2 separate regions of the Homo sapiens genome follow, and region 1 is linked to region 2. Evidence: fine-mapped expression QTL. Tissue or cell type: tibial artery. Region 2 holds a variant in brackets; the other region holds the start of a gene. All regions are shown on one strand. Distances are from middle to middle.

Region 1 (8,108 bases), 250 kb before region 2:
GGCAGCTCAGAGAAGCAGTAGCTAGAAAATGGCAGAGTTAACTCAAATCCAGGTTCTGTGCAATGCCAGATTCAGTGTGCAGCTTTCCATCACACCACACTGCTTCTTTTGGTCACTGCCTTCTTAGAGAAAGGATTTTTTAGTTCAAATGAGGAAATCCTCCAAAGCAAACATGATACTCAACTTTGAGGCATTCTGCCTAGAATTTATTGCCATGGTAGACATTGAAAAGGTTCTTTATTTTCATGGTTTGATGTTCATGGGAGAATCTGAACTCTTTACATCGGCGGGTTCATCATTTAAACATCAGAATACTTTTGGAAACCCAGAAATTTGTAAGTTGAGTTTGTCATAAACAACTTACTCTGTTGGAACGGATGAGTGCAGAGAAGGGAACACTCCCTCCTTTCTGTTCTATTGCACCCGATGGCGATGGGGAAGGGAGAGCCCTTACGTTAAAGATCACATATTAGGAAAGTCGGGAGACAAGATAAAAGTTAGGGCTTTGAGTATAAACCCAGGGATTTGAATATAAACCAAGGAGAGCCTCTAGCTAACAAAGGCAATGTGGACATTTGAGAAGAGGGACCCTGTGGCCTGAGGGCTAGTGGAATGAGCGGTTGGGTGAGGCAGAGTGTGGTGGGGCTTAGCATTGAGGTAATGGTCTTAGGCAATATTATTATAATTCAGATCCACCACTTTGAGAAAGAATATGAGGACAACCGTGTCTGCCAAGGCAAAGGATAGGAGCGGGCCCAGAGTGCAGAAAGTTGAGAATTGCCAGGGAAGTTGAGGGAGACTGCCACGTAGAATACAAGGCTGCAGTTTAAAGAGAGAGGTATTTTTTTTCTACTCACTGGACTGGAAAGCTTGAGGAAGCTAGGCAAGTCGTGAAAGCAAAATCTCTTGCTTCTTAACCTGCGGGTTAGCCTTAGAGCAAAAAGCATATTTTGCTCTAAAAAAATCTGATAAAATACATCCTGTCTGTGGTTCACAAGCCACTTTGGATTTAGGTGAGTGGGAGAGAACATGAGGGAACTTAATGGGGAGAGGGAGAGAGGGCATGGCTGAGGCATTGTTCCTGCCTAGTTTCTCCTTTTCCTCAGTTTCATCCCTGTTCTGTACTTGGAGCAAAAATCAAGATAAAATCAATAAAAGTTTGCAGACAAATTGAATACAGAAGACCCAATTCTGCCCTGGCATGAAGTAGGCACCACTTTTACCCACAATCCACATCCCTTATCCCCACACCTGGGGGGTGGTATGGTGAGAGAAAAGGGACTTGGATAGGAAAAAGTAATACAAATTCAGCATCCACATGGTATACAGAGAATAGTGCTTTTCATAGGTACACAGGCAGAGTCATAGCTTACATACATGGGCACGCATTTAACCACAGGACTTATGTATGGCTGTTCAGATTCAAACTTCTAACCAGATATTCTGGGTCTAAAAAGGACCACAGAGATCCTCTGATCCAGCCCACTGCCTTATATAGGATGTACCTACTGGCCCAGAGAGAAGAGTCTGTTCAAAGCCATTCAAAGGAAAAAAAAGAGGACACAATTTTAATTCGGTTGCTCAATAACTCTATCAAAAAATAAAAAGCAATTCAAAATGATAAAAGGAACACAGGTGGTTACAAGATCCAGAAACAAATCCAAAATATCACCATTTAGTATACATAACATCTCAGTCCCTCAGTTTCCACATAGCACAATGGGAATATGTTAGCTTCCCTGTCTACTTCAGAGTGTTATTGGGAGAATGTAATGAAATTATGTATGTGAACATACTCTTTATTGTTAAAGATAAGGCTAAAGCAGGGCAGTAGTATTAGGAAGCACTTATTTTAACAAGTTAAATTTCTTTTCTGTCTTTAGGGGAAACTAATGAAATTTGATCATGTGCTTTAAATAAGACATGCACCAACATTTAAAAGACTAATATAAAAATTGCCCCTCCACCATTCTCTACACCTCCCTATTTCACCCCTCCTTTTTTGGCTGACTTGCCCTTTTGGCCGAATAAGCCCATCCTATATGTCTACTTTTCCAGCCTTTCAAGAATCAAATTCTGATTTTATAGAATGTTATGTTGGAAAGTCTGTTAGAAATCACTTAGTACAACTTCTTTCTTTTGTTGTAAGGTAAAGGCACTTGCCCAGGGTTATGTAGTTAGTGACAGAGCCCACACTAAAACTGGGACCTCCCAACGTTTTTTTTTAAACCACAATTTGTTGTAAGGTGGGGAGGAGGGCAAACATGCAGACACAATATGTCAAGCAAGACGTTGCTTTTAAAAATTCATATTGTACTCTTCTCACAAGAATGCACTTAGAAGTTTTGTTTTTGAATTGCAAGCTGTCAGAAGGTGAGATGATTTCAAATCAAGGCTAATCAAAGAAACACTGTTTTGGGGTCACAAAGGGACTTTTTCTGCTTTTAATTTAGGAACTGAAAACTCCCAAGGATATGGAAAGCCTGCTTTTTAACCTATTCCTGACCATGTAAGTGTTTAGACTTTTTCCCTAGACTGCTAGGGAGTCTAAGGACAAATAAAGAACGCTATTTGAATACAAAGTATTCACACACACCCAGGCACACACGTGCACATAAGCATGCTCACACACACACACAAACTTCCAGAGGAATAAAAGAGTTAATTAGCAGTCCACAAATAATTTTTTTGTTTATTACTTCAGACTGTAAAGTGTTCTTACTTTCACAATAAAGATTAGCAAATGAGGCATTAGCTGAATTTCAATACACCAATAATACAAACCAGGATGTTTTATCCTGAAGCCAGAAGTAATTGTTAGGACAGCAGAATTTGCTGAGTTTTCCTATGTGCTTTTCAGCAAACTTACAGTTCCAAATCCTCAGAACCAATTGTTTCCATTACAATGCACCGCTCCTTTTTCCCGTCCCCCACCCAAAGCCAGTTCTGATCAAGTGGTCCAGTGAAGACCCTAGAACAGTGTACTTGGCCTGGGAGTGGAGGATGGAGCCCCATCTTGAAATCAAAGTTTAAACCAAAGCTGGAATCAGAGGGGAACAAAGCCAGGCCAGAGGCTGAAAATGGAATAGCCAAGATCAACCTGTCACCAGGGCAGGAAGACCACTGGCTGTGCAGACAGGGAGTTAAGATAGACTTGGCCACCACTTCCTCCTGTACAACACTGCACAGCCTGCTCACCCTCCTACCAGAGTTCACAGGCCTTTTGCACACAGTGTGGCTCCAAGATTTTGCTCGCATTTCAATAATTTTCCCACAGCTGTGGGTCAGCAGAAGCTAGAAGGAGGCCCTGAAAGGAGCCACGCTTCTCCCCCTCAACACCATCCCCTGTGATTTTTCCTCACTTACCAGGTATTTTGGGTAGCAGAAGGCAAACACATACACATGCACGCGTGTGTGCACACACACAAAAAACTGACCAGATATCCCCAGAAAAGTTTCATTGCCAGACAACCACAATCATCACCCCACACACCCCTCAAAATAACCAACCAAAAATTCCATTATTTTTGAAGTTCTCAAACTGCTATTAACGGGCACATATTTGATCCAGACAAGCCATAAAATATAGCTGTGGAGTTTGGTTAACTACAAAGTTGAAGTTTCTTCATCTTTCTTAGACGCTAAGTTATCCAGGAAATAAAACTCCAGGGTAAGTTTGCGAATTCCCTCTCTACTCACCTGAGTTATCCCAGGAGCCCTGCTGCTGCTGCTGCTGCTGCTGCTGCTGCTGCTGCCGTTGCCGCTGCTGCTGTTAGCCAGGTAACCCCACTAAAAGTCTGTTCAGTCAGTGTGGCTGAACAAAGATTCTGGCTTTCTTAACCTGAAAACTATTTGGGCTGTACCAAGCTCTGCTCACAGGGGGAGGTGCCTCGCAGCAACTTCAGGAGGCTTTGCCCCGCCCAGCAGTCAGAAACTGATCCTGAGTCATGAGGAAAATGTGGAAAGTGCCTCTACCAGATGTGCAGACGGGATGCCCACTCCAGACCCACCCACCAGCAAACTGAAAAACTCAGGAAGCCACGTTTGAAAGCTCTTTCGGTTTCAAGGAGAAATAAGACTTTCAGCGAGGATTCTGATAGATTTCTTACTTTTCTGTCCCAGGGTTAATATCACAGACATGCACATTACTAGAGAGAGGACATGCAGAGAAAAATGGTGAAGTGTTGGCAAAGTTAATATGGGCTAGGCTGCAGACATGGCCCTGGTCAGACATGGCCCTGGTAGGCAGATCTGTGATAGTGATGAGGACTTCAGGAAGTGACTGGGAGTGAAAGAGCAGCTAATGGGGTGCAATGAAGAAAAGGTCACTTCGTGAAACAACAGGTAACATTTGGTCAAAGACAGAGAGAAGGGATTGTTAAGAGGAAAGTGAATGGAGTTTATTCCACAGCAGCTATAAGAACCCTAATTTCTAGCAACCAGGCTATGAAGATTCTGCACAGCTGTGTTAGGTGAGAGGAGAGAAAATAATTGTTTTTGCTCTGAAAGGCCAAGCAAGATCCCTATAAATACTATACTGCATCACAGTCAAAGTCCTGGTCCCTTCAACCTGAGACATTCATTTGGACACAATTCCAGGAACATGATTCTCAAGTTGTTTTGTTTGTTTCATTTTCACAAACTGTAAAGATGCTCATCATCTCATTCCTCAGCTTTCCTGACCAGTGTACTGTTAACCCTTGAACCTGAAATTACTTCCTTCTACCCCTCCTCCTGCACCAACCCTCCTGCTGGCTAGTTGAAGATGTAAGAGATAAGGGGGGTTGGGGATAACAAGTGAGCAACATAGAGCTCAACAAGGACAGGAAGCATGTTCTCTCTCCACTCACTGGGCCCATACCAATGTTTTCATAAAACAGTTCTGAGCATTTCTATAACTCTGGTCTCTGAGATCTCCTTCTTGGCATTTCCCTACAACTCCCTCTGTACCTTCTATGCCAAGATGGAAATTCAGCTAGAGGTAGGGCACAAGGAAACAGGGGTCCAGGGCAATTAGGCCTCTAAATATTGGCAACCATTCAGCTAGACAGTGAGATAGTCCTCAAGCAAATATCCCTGGTATGGAATTTTGGTTTTAAAATCAACGGAGGATGTTTTGTCTGGGCTCATATTCTTTAGCCATCTTTTCCACCTTCATACTTGTAAATCTAGCAGGGAATCACAGAACCTGGGAATTGGAAGGAACCTTAGAAGCCATGTTTATCCTCTTGCTCAGTGCAGAAATATCCTTCTGACAGTCTGAGAAACTCATCCCTATGCAAAACAGCTTATTCCATATTTGATCATTTCCTAATTGTTAAAAGGGTCTTCCTTAGGTTGAGGAAAAAATAGCTTCACACAAACAATTTCTAATTCCTCTTTCACATGACAGCCCTTTAAAATATCTAGCATGTCACGCCAAGTCATTCATCCTCTGGGCTAAATATCCTCAGTTCTTTCAAACCATGCCTCATAGGACATGGTTTACAGACTTTTTGCCACTCTAGTTGTCTTTTGAGCATAAATCTACTCAGTGTGCAGCCCGTAGCTTAATCAAAATCCTCTGTTGTTTCTTGCATGAACTACTACTATGTGCCTGATTCTAGGTTTGTACAATTGACTTTTAATTTTACCTGGATGCTGGGCTTTGTATTCATTCTCAAAAACCATTGCCTTGTTTATTTTAATCTATCTCCTTAAGATCTTTCTTTATCTTGAGCCTCATATACAAAATCATATTCTCCATAGTAATGTTTCTCAATCTTTTTTTATCATTATCACGGTCCTAAAGAGCCTTTTTAGATATTTTTCCCAATGTCTCTCCGTGAAATTTTAATACCACAGATATGCTGTCTATCTGTTTATTTGCTGTCTATCTGTTTATTTGCTGTATGTATATCTCTGTTTCATGTAAAAAAGAAATTTTTTTTTCACTCTTCAAGAATCAATTTTTGCCCTCTTGGGGGCAATATCACCCCCATTGAGAATGCATGATCTGTATCAATAAATGTTTTATATGTGTATTTGATCAGCCAGACTGATGAAAGTATTGAATGAGAGGGTCCAGGACAGAATACTGCAGCATAACCTTAAGAGTCTTCCCCTTTTGATAAGGTTGTTCAAACTTGAAACAATCCATATAACTCCTGCTACCACCCAGCTCTGACTTTTCCATCTTCTTCATGAAGATATCATAAGACTTTTTCAAATGTCTTGCTGAAATCCAGATACAGTATACTATGGTATCCCAGTGATCTATCCTTTTAGATACCCTTTTCAAAAAGGAAACGGACTTAGTTAGGCATGTCTTGCTTTTAGTCATCCCATGCTTACCCCTAGTGATTTCCGCTCCCTTTCTAAAGCCTCACAAACGATCTGCCTAACAGTGCATTCTACACTTTTGCCAAGGATAAATGCCATGCTCATTGGTCTTCAGTTTCCAGGATCTATATTTTGCACCCCACACCACCACCACCTACCTTCACTAAAAATTGGGATATTTCCCTGCCTCTTTGCACCCCTCATGTCTTCTCTTTGCCATAATTTCTCAAAGGTTACCAAGACTGGCTCTGTGATCACATCTGCACATTCTCTCAGCAGCCTCAAATGTGATTTGTGTGGGCCTGGAAACTCATTGAAGGCAGCTAAGGACTCCTTTATTATCTCCTCATCTATCTTGGGCTTTAATTCTCTTTCCAGTTCAAAGATCATGCTCCTTGATGGAGAGGTTAATTAACTTGCCCACAGCCACACACCTAGTAAATTGGCAGAGCTGGGATTTAAATCAGGCTCTATTTAACTCTGAAGACTGGCTCTTAACCAGAATGCTATGAGATTTCAAACACCAAATGAGTGGTATGGCCTATGGGTGTTGTATGAGTTCCAAAATGGGAGAGAACTATTTTAATAAGAGTAGTCGAGGCAGGCCTTATACAAGAGGTGAAATTTGAACTGGATCTTAAATAATGAGTAGGATCCCAATAGGAACAAAATAATGATGTGTGCATATGTTGGTAGGAATCAGGGAAGAGACTGAGGATGGCATCCCAGTCAGAGGAAATAACAAAGAATAATAAAGGATAAGAATTGCCACCTTGGTCTGCCTCATAGTCTACTTGGTTGATCATTATGAACACTAAGATACCACAAATGGTCAAGAGAGAGCCAGAGTGTTCCTGCCTTACCTTAATAATAGTTTATTAAAGCTCTGATGCTTGCTACTTGTATATTCTAGGGCAAGGCACAGCCCTTCTGGTCCTTGGTTTCCTGCTCTATAAAATAGGAATAAAACAGTCCTATTTTCAATAAGCATTTACTGAGCTCCTACTATATACCAGATACTATGCTAGTTGCTGGAGTTATAATGGCAGGCTATAATAAGAAACATGATCTCACCCTCAATAATTAAAAATCAGTCATGTATTTGCTTTGTGGAAGTTTTCAGTCCATACTACTATTTTGTTCCATTATCTGGGTAATGTGGCACATTTTACTTATCTTAAAATGACCTCATTTAAAAGCTTGTGGGGATAGTGGTAAGGAGGCTTTTGATATGGTAGCCTAGGATTTGTGGAGCAAGTTGGTGTCTGCTGTCTCCAAGATGTTATAGATTCTGGTTAATTCCATCTCAGCCCTCACCCAAGTCTTGGATTCTGTTCTTTTGCTTCCTCTAGCCTCATTCCCAGCCCAATATTTTCCCCTATATTGGGCATTTTCCATCCCTAGATTGTAAAACTGAGTTCCCTGAGGGAGAAAAAAAAGCCAGCTGCACCCAGTATGCCAAGTGGTTGGCAGGGGCGGGGGTTGCTGTACATTGGTGTAGTATGGCTCTGCCGTGTGGGGCAGTGTCATTTGGTTTTGGCTAGCTAACTACAGTCCTTGCCTCTTTTTAGCTTGAAATCCTCTAAGGCCAGTGAAAGTGTGAACAGAAGCCACGGAAGAGGATGGACTGTCAGCTTCCAAACCAAATAGCCTTGGGGTGGAGTTCAACCAAGATTTTGGGAGAGTGTAAGTTGGATATCTTCTCTGTTGGCCTGGTTAACACAAAAATATGCTTCGCTGGCTGGCAGCAGAACTTTTTTTTAATCAGGGGAAGCAACTCATTTGCC
Region 2 (8,108 bases):
TTCCCAGAACCTTATCATGTTAAAGAAAATAAAAGTAACTACTAGGAGCACCCTGAGAACCAAACAGAGATCAGGGTACACTTATTTTATATCTCCAGCACCTAAAAAAGTGTCTGGAACTTGATTGGCACTCAATAAATGTTTGCCAAAGAAATGTTAATCTGATTTTGGAGGCCTGTGGAGAACTTGGTTGCTCTTGCTACAAATAAGTTTCACTCAAAGAATCCCTCTCGGGCTTGATTGATGCAGAAAGTTATTCCCTTATCATTCTGGGGAGCAAAATTCATGATCTAGGAGTGTATGTTATTTTGCTCCTATGAGGTTATATACACTATGCTGATGTCAAAAATTAGTGAGAACTTGACATTTCAATGTTTATACTAAAAACACAAGACTTTTTGTTACTAAGATTTTATTTACCAAATTAATGACAAAATATGCAATTAGAAAACCAAAGGTGCATATTCATGTCACTTGTGAGTATTTTGGTTTACATTAGAAGTGAAGTAAACCAGATGTACAAGTTAATATTGGACATTGACCAGTTATTAAACACTTTCTCTTTTCCCTTTCCCCCAAACTTCTCTTCCTCTTTTTTTGCTCCATTCTTTCTCAATATTACCTCCTTCCCTTCCTTCTCCCCCTCATAATCACTCATTTCCTGCCCCATCTTATCTCCATCCCACATCCCTCATAGTCTTTACTCATTTCTCACATTTCTTTCTTTTCCTCCTCTCTCCCTTCCCTCTTCCTCTATCTTCCTTTCTTTCTTTCCCTAATTCCTTACCCCCTTTTCCATTCCTCACTCTCCTCCTTTTCCCTCAACAGCTTTCAATCACTTTTACAAAGACTAGAAACTGATTTTTATTGCATGAGCTTTCCAGAAAGAACTGCAGGATACTAAAATAATTCTTTCCACAAAAAATCATATCCTTCAGAATTAATAGAATTTGAATTCCTTTTGAAATTGCATGGTTGTTTTTCTTTCCAAATGGTGCAGAGCTTTTAACAGAGCAATCATATTATCTGTGCAACTCATTAATTAGTTAGCAAAGAGAGCCATGACAATCCTGTTTGAAAAGCTTTTATGAGAAGTAGTCACAGATATAGGACCAGAGTAACAAAAAAGAGGATTTCCTAATATCTAACGTTGCATTTATTCATTTCAAAGTCCTTAATGGATTTAAGGAATTAAATTGATAAACCTCCCTAAATTGACCAGACTGTTTGGTCTCCCGAAGACTGTAGAGGCTTTAAGAAATATGTGATTAGCTAGTTTTCCAAACTTTCAAAGGAAATGTTTAAAGAAATTGACAAGGTTAGCTGAGATCATTGTTCTCTAAGCTTCTCCAAGCTTCATAGAATTCTAATAAATATTGAATAAGTATTCAGACCTAAGGAAGATTCAGAGTCAATTGTGTAGGAGGCAGAAAATGTAGTATCAATTGTTATTGAAAATTATCTGCAGACACAAGTGAACTTTCTAAAATTTAATTTAAAATCTAACCAATCCCATGTAGTTTTCCTTTAAAATCTTGTAACTGAAATAGCACTTCATGAAGAGAGTTTCTAACAAGGTGATAATTTCTTAATTCTAGATTATAATCTGGAATTTAGTCTCCAATAAGAAATTGAACAGTGGGGGAAGGGAATAAAAAGAAAAGAGAAAGTTATATTCTTCTCCAAGCTATATTAGCAATCGGATCAGAGATAAGACTGTGCCTCTCTTTGAACTGTAAATGTTAGGTACATTTCTTCATCATACCCATGCATTTATTCAATAATTCTTGAGCAGCTACTGCAAGCAAAGCTGTATCAGGGATAGACTGCTGAAAATGATCCTCAAGAATTTTGTAAGTTACAATTTAGAAGAAAACATATCAACTAGATACCTGCAATATTTGTCAAATTTAATTCCTCTAAGAGAAATACAAAGCATTGTGGAAATTAGGGTTAGGGTGGAAAGTCAAGATCAGCTTCATGAACTAAATCTTGAAGAATTGTAGTATTTCCTCACCCAGAGATGTGTGAAGATAGAAGGAACTGGTCAAACAAAAATGTGGAAGCAGGGAAGTAGGTAAGAGTGAGCATTACAGTTTTATTGGAAAGAGGGTAATGGAAGGAATTAAGGTAAGCCAGGGCCAAGGCATTGACAGCCTTAAATGTCAAGCTAAGGAGAATGGAGTAAAATCCAAAGGCAACATGTAGACTTCCAACATTTTATTTCTTTTTCCTTTTTCATTCCACTAGACTAGTTATAAATAAATTGTATAGTAATAAAATATAGAATAAAATAGCAAGTTGAAGATTACACAGTTTGGTATATTTTTTATAAAGTTCAAAACAAATAATACTAACATCGTTTAGGCATAGGGGTGTGTGTGTGTGTGTGTGTGTAAATAAAAGGAAGGTAATGAGTCACAAAATTCAGAATATTGGTTATTGGTTATTTCTGGAGAAGGATAGGTAAGAGGATGAGATGGGAGGAGCATAGGTAGATGTCGTGTAAATTATTAGTTATTCTCAATCTTAAAGTTGGTAGATGTTTGCCCACAGATGTTTGTCCATGGGTGTTCAATATATTATTAAATAAGTGAATAAAAAGAGCTCAAATTTACCAGTGATGACAATGTGCCATAAACCAAGGAGTATGACTTACCTGATTCTGTATACTTGGGGTCCAAAAGGGAGTATAAAGATACTAGAATAGTGTAGAGGTTTCTCCCACTTGACTTGCACTAGCAGTGAGTGTTTATTTTTCCTTACCCTTCTTTTCTGGAAGGCAGGTGAAAAAGTAACTTAGGAGATACATGGGTGAAAAATCCATTAAGCTCTTATCTCTAGGTTACTACCATTCTTAAGGAAAGGAGCTGCTGGGAGAAGTGGTGAGGAGGAAGGCCAGTGAGACTGACAACCTATATATGAAGCACTCTGAATACATAGTGAAGCAATTGAGCTGTGTGGGCTGTCTGGGACTGTTAGAGTCCTGATTTGAAGTGCTCTGTTCTATTTGTAGACTGGTGTTTCTCAGCCCTGGCTGCATATCAAAATCACCTGTGGAGCTTTTAAGCAATACAGATGTTCATGCCCCATACAGAGCTACTGAATCAGAAACCCTGAAGAAAAGACCCAGTTATATATATTTTCAAAAACATACTAAGTAATATTAAAGTAGAGCAAGGACTGAAAAACATTCCCTGAAGAGTGTGCTTAGAAACAAGTGGGTAACTTGTTTCAAACATTGATTCCAGGATACTGTCCCCAGAGATTCTAATCTAAGAAAAAAGGGAAAGGGTCTGGGAAAGGGTCCGTGTTTTTATTCATAATAAACACCCTGTAGGTGATTCTGATGAAGGCACTTCCCTTGACCACTCTGAGAAACACTGCCCCAAAGGTTCCAAAACACTAGGGTTTCAGGGTGATTAGTCCATATATTTGCTTCCTAAAACTGCCATAAAAAATTGTATAAGCTAGGTGACTTAAAACAACAGAAATTTATTCTTTCAGGCCTGGAGTATAGAAGTCTGGAATCATGGCATCAGTAGGGCCGTGCACTCTCTGAAATCTGTAGGGTAGACTCCTTCCTTGCCACTTCGAGCCTCTGGTATTTGCTGGCAATCCTCAGCATTCCTTGGCTGGTAGATGCACCACTCTAATCTCTGCCTCTGTCTTCTGCTTGTATGCCTCTGTCTTCTCCTCTTCTTGTGAGAACACCAGTCATTATATTAGGGCCAACCTAATATATTGACTTGATTCCATCTACAAGGTCTTATTTCCAAATAAG[G/T]TTACATTCACAGTTACTGGAGTTTAGGACTTCACCATTTTTGGGGGGTGACACTATTCACCCATAACACTGTTTTAAATGCTTTTAAAAGTACAGCCTCCAAACAACCAATAAGATAGATTAGCTGTATTCTTTAGCTGGGCTATCTAGAGAGAAAAAACAATAATTAACTCTCAAAGCTCAGTATACAAAGAAATACTTGAAAGGCTTGTGTTTAGTATGCGTATTCCTGGGCCTTGATCCCAGCTAATCAAATATCAAAATAGCTGCACTTGTAAGGATAGAAAAATGTTTCCTAGACCATTGCTCCAAATATAGTGGAAAGATATTATATATCTCTCTCTCTCTCTCTGCTCTTGTTTCTTATGAACCAAGTTATTCTGTATGGGCAATAGGAACAGTAAGCAGGTAGACTAAGAAAAATATGGATTATGGAAAGTATAGTAACGTGGGCTAGGGAATACAAACTTTAAGCTGAAGTGTTCCCAAGCTGGGGGCAAAATTCAATATGATAGGAAAAATAATGTGACCGTTGGAGCTATTTCTATGAACTCTCCTTGGGTATGTTAACAACAGACAGAACTAGGCTACATTGTTAGCAATCTACTATTGCACATAGAAGTGTGACAGGTGATGGTTGTTTATATTGTTTATTTTAGCCACCCATATTCAAAATTCATGTTTAGAATGGCAAGTTAAATCATTTTGGAAGACTTCAGCAGTGAATAGTTGACCCTATTTACACAGTGGAATGTTTTTGCCAATAAAAAGAAGGTTCTAGCTTTACCAACGATAAAGCATGCAGTGCATTTATTTGCTCAGAATAGGCATACCCTCTCAATTCCTTCTGGTCTATAACTATTGGGGGGAAATGTCTATTTCCACTCTACAGATCTAAATGAGAGAGATAGAACAAAAAAAGAAAATTGGAGGAAGCCTGCATTCCTGAATGTTCCCCTGATTCATTAAAGTAACAATTGTCACTGGGATCTGGAGATTGAAAAACAATTCCTTAAACTTAGGATTCCTTTGTTTCAGTGCTAGGCTTTCTGGTTCAACTAGATCAGTGGTTCTTAGTCCTGGCTGCGCTTTGAAGTTACTTGGAAAAGACTTTATTGCTTTTCTTCTATCTCTCTTATTTAGATATGTGGGGTAAAAATAGACATTTTTCCCCAGTGTTTTTAGACCAGAAGGAATTGAGAGGGTGTGCCTATTCTGAGCAAATAAATGCATCCTTCATCATTGGTATAGATAGAACCTTCTTTTTGTGGGCAAAAGCATTCCACCATGTAAATAGGGTCAACTATTTACTGCTGAAGTCTTCCAAAATGATTTAACTTGGCATTCTAAACATGAACTTTGAATATGGGTGGCTATTTTTTTTTTTAATAGCAGTGCTTGGGTCCCATCCCAGACCAATAAAGTCTGAATCTCTAGAGTGGTGCCCAGGCCCCTACTGTGGAGATTATGATTCAGGAAGTCTAGGTTTGGGCCCAGGATCTGTATATTAATAAGTACCCCCAAGTAAATCTTATGATCAGTTGGTTTAGAAAACGTTGTTCTAATATAGGTTAGTCATTAGCTGCTGTTTACTGATGTGATTTTTTTCTTTAACCTTTTAAAAGCTATTTTCTACAGAGAAGAAAAAGCATTCTAAAATTAGTTTGCATATAGCAAACCATTTTGCAATTTATCAATTTATTTTTATTTCAAAATACATTGCCATTTGTTTTTCTTAGAGATAACTGAATCTTTTATTTTTGTTTTTGATTTTCAGGAAAATCAATATCTGTTGGAGAATCTGAAGAGCCAAATCTCCTGAGCCTAGGCCTACTGCTGTCAGCATCTCTGAGACCTCTCTCACCTGAGAATTACCAGGTCTGACAACACTTTCCCTCCAGCCTACAGTGAGGGATGTCAACAAAGCTACAGAAAACTCACATTCTGTAGACTTACAAGCTGTGCAGCTGGGCAGGAACCTTACAATCTCCATCCTTAGGGAAGGTTCAGAAATACAGATAAACGGGGTGAAAACTCAGATAAGCTGAGCCTGATATATACAAAAGCCTTCAGATAGTCTCCTCGCAGAAGAGCCCAATTAAGTCCACATAATTAGTCCACACATCTAGATTAGGTATAGGCAAAACGAGCCTTTTCTCCATCTACGAAAACAGAGCAAAACACTGATATAATACTCTAAAAGATTCTTGTTCTAATAACAGTATTATAAAGCAGTTTCACCCATATTTATTTTAATCAGTATAAAAGTAGGAGTGTGGAAAATAAAACATTACTTGTATTTTTAAAAATTGATTAAGAAGCTCTGATAAAACCTATTGGAGGGGCGATTGCTGTGCTGAAGGATAGAGAGGGTGTTGCAATTGTCAAATAGCATCACCATTTTCTGCTTGTGTGCTATTGCCTTAGCTCTGAGAGTGATTGGTTTTTACCAGATTGTTAGAACACGTCCAATAGATTTAGAGACAGTCTAAGTGACTGTGAAATGCCTCAAGGGCAGTAGAAATCAAATAGAAACACATACTAACTCAAGTCTTGAGTGATGATGGAGGCGCATTTTAAATACCATGGAAATCTCACTGGGCGTGCCCATTTTCCCACTCTGGCAACAGAGGTTGATACCTCTTCAGACAAGTATTCCAACCTGTACATGTATGTGGGCTTATTCCTGAGCCTCCTGGCCATTCTCCTCATCCTGCTCTTCACAATGCTCCTTCGGCTCAAACATGTCATCTCGCCCATCAACTCTGACAGCACAGAAAGTGTTCCTCAGTTCACAGATGTAGAGATGCAGAGTCGAATCCCCACTCCCTAAAGCCAGGATGAAGGTGAGCTTTAGTGGATCTGGGTAAACCCTTATATATGGATGTCCAGGAGAGCTTGCTTTCTTGCATGAAGCTTCCCATGTAGGGAATCCACAAGTTGTTCATTTAACAGCAAGCTGTTCATGTTTTCTTTGTGTTATTCTTCATCTTTACTCTGCTTGTGGGCTATCTAAAACGTTTAAGACTCACTCTGAAAGGAATATAGGAAAAGACAGCTGGTTGGGAGGGCTGGTTTCCATAGTAACCAAACAGTGCCTGGGCCTTGCACAAACCTCAGACCACAGAAATTCATGCGCAGTGGTTGTAAGAAGCACAGGGTCCCTGGAAGCTCCAAAAACAAACAAAGAAGATTTGCTTTTGAAAGGGCTGATCCTTCAAAGAGGATATCCCAAGAAAAGGACAAGTTCTAATTTAGTGTTTTGATCCTAGAGAATCACCTCTATACAAAGTTAAATTATGTCAGAAGTTAATGGAAGAGAAGCCCTTTCCCTAAACAGCAGTGATTTGATCATCTTAGGCAATCCGGTTTGTTTCAAATGAAAGAAGAGATTTAAAGAAACTGTTTCAGTTTAGAGAGCAAGTTTTCAGAAAGAAGTTTCTAGTAAACAAACTCATCTAGAGAGAGAAAAATGTGCATATTATATCCATATTAATTCTATTCATGCAGCTTCTTTGTCTTTTTCTCTCTCCCTCTCACACTCTAGGATAGAGTTGCACACAAATATGAGCTTTGTTTAAAAGGTGCCTTTGCAAACAAGACTCAACTGTACTTTAGAGCAGAAATAAAATGATGTTGGTATTCTGTTGTTGAATATGGCTTTGGACAAAACATTCAAGCCTTCTGAGTCCCAGGGTTTTTGTGCTGAAAAATGATTAGAGAGCTATTTAGTCATCACTATACTCTTTAGATCTGAGCATAAAAAAAAGAGAGAGAGACAAAGGAGGAAAGGACTAAACAACATCCTCCAACAAATCCTTATTGAGATCAATGTCCTCAAATGTCACATTTGTATTTCCCAGAAAATGTTCCTCCCTTCCTGATCCCTGCCAAAAGATGAAGTGTTTCACTTATTACCTATAAGAGAATTATATTTTGAAAAATTCCATTCTCATAAGTAGCCCTAGTATGCCAGTAGTGTGGAGAGAATTTAATTTTTAAAACTAACTTTTCAAAGGGAAACCAAAGGAGATGAGTACCATTTACAAATCAGAATTTAAAAAACTGGTCATATTCTTGCCACCAAAGGACGAGTACACCTGTGTTAAATTTTACTTGCTAAAACAAAAAATAAGTTATCTTTTGTACCTAAAGGGGGGTCATCAAATTTCACAGAGTACTCTCTCAGGAACTGTAATGATGGTAAGAGAGAAATCAAATAGATGTTAGATTAATGCCACCTCCACCAGAAATGTAGCTCTTTGTAGTCTGTAACCAATTTAGATTGGCCCTTTTTCTCTGATCTAAATCTAGATTGGTAGTG

Alleles and levels. Positions count from the first base shown, and alleles are read on the strand shown. Sizes are in standard deviations (SD) of each study's normalised expression.
As copies of T replace G in region 2, the expression in tibial artery of the gene that starts at base 3,812 in region 1 goes down (small effect, 0.37 SD a copy in GTEx).

The links. PIP is the estimated chance that this variant, and not a neighbour inherited with it, causes the effect.
Region 1: it holds the start of CAPN6, and the variant in region 2 is fine-mapped to the expression of CAPN6 in tibial artery (GTEx, PIP 0.97).

What each region holds. Positions count from the first base shown.
Region 1 is chrX:111,266,672-111,274,779 of GRCh38, forward strand. It overlaps CAPN6 (calpain 6), which reads right to left and starts at 3,812. Exons shown (of 13, transcript NM_014289.4): 1 at 3,700-3,812.
Region 2 is chrX:111,512,514-111,520,621 of GRCh38, forward strand. SERTM2 (serine rich and transmembrane domain containing 2) reads left to right here. Exons shown (of 3, transcript NM_001354473.2): 3 at 5,562-8,108. The coding sequence starts at 6,345. The coding sequence ends at 6,617. Among named protein-coding and RNA genes, the nearest start is that of SERTM2, 4.9 kb to the left of the region's middle. The variant G/T (reference allele first, on the strand shown) is at 3,785.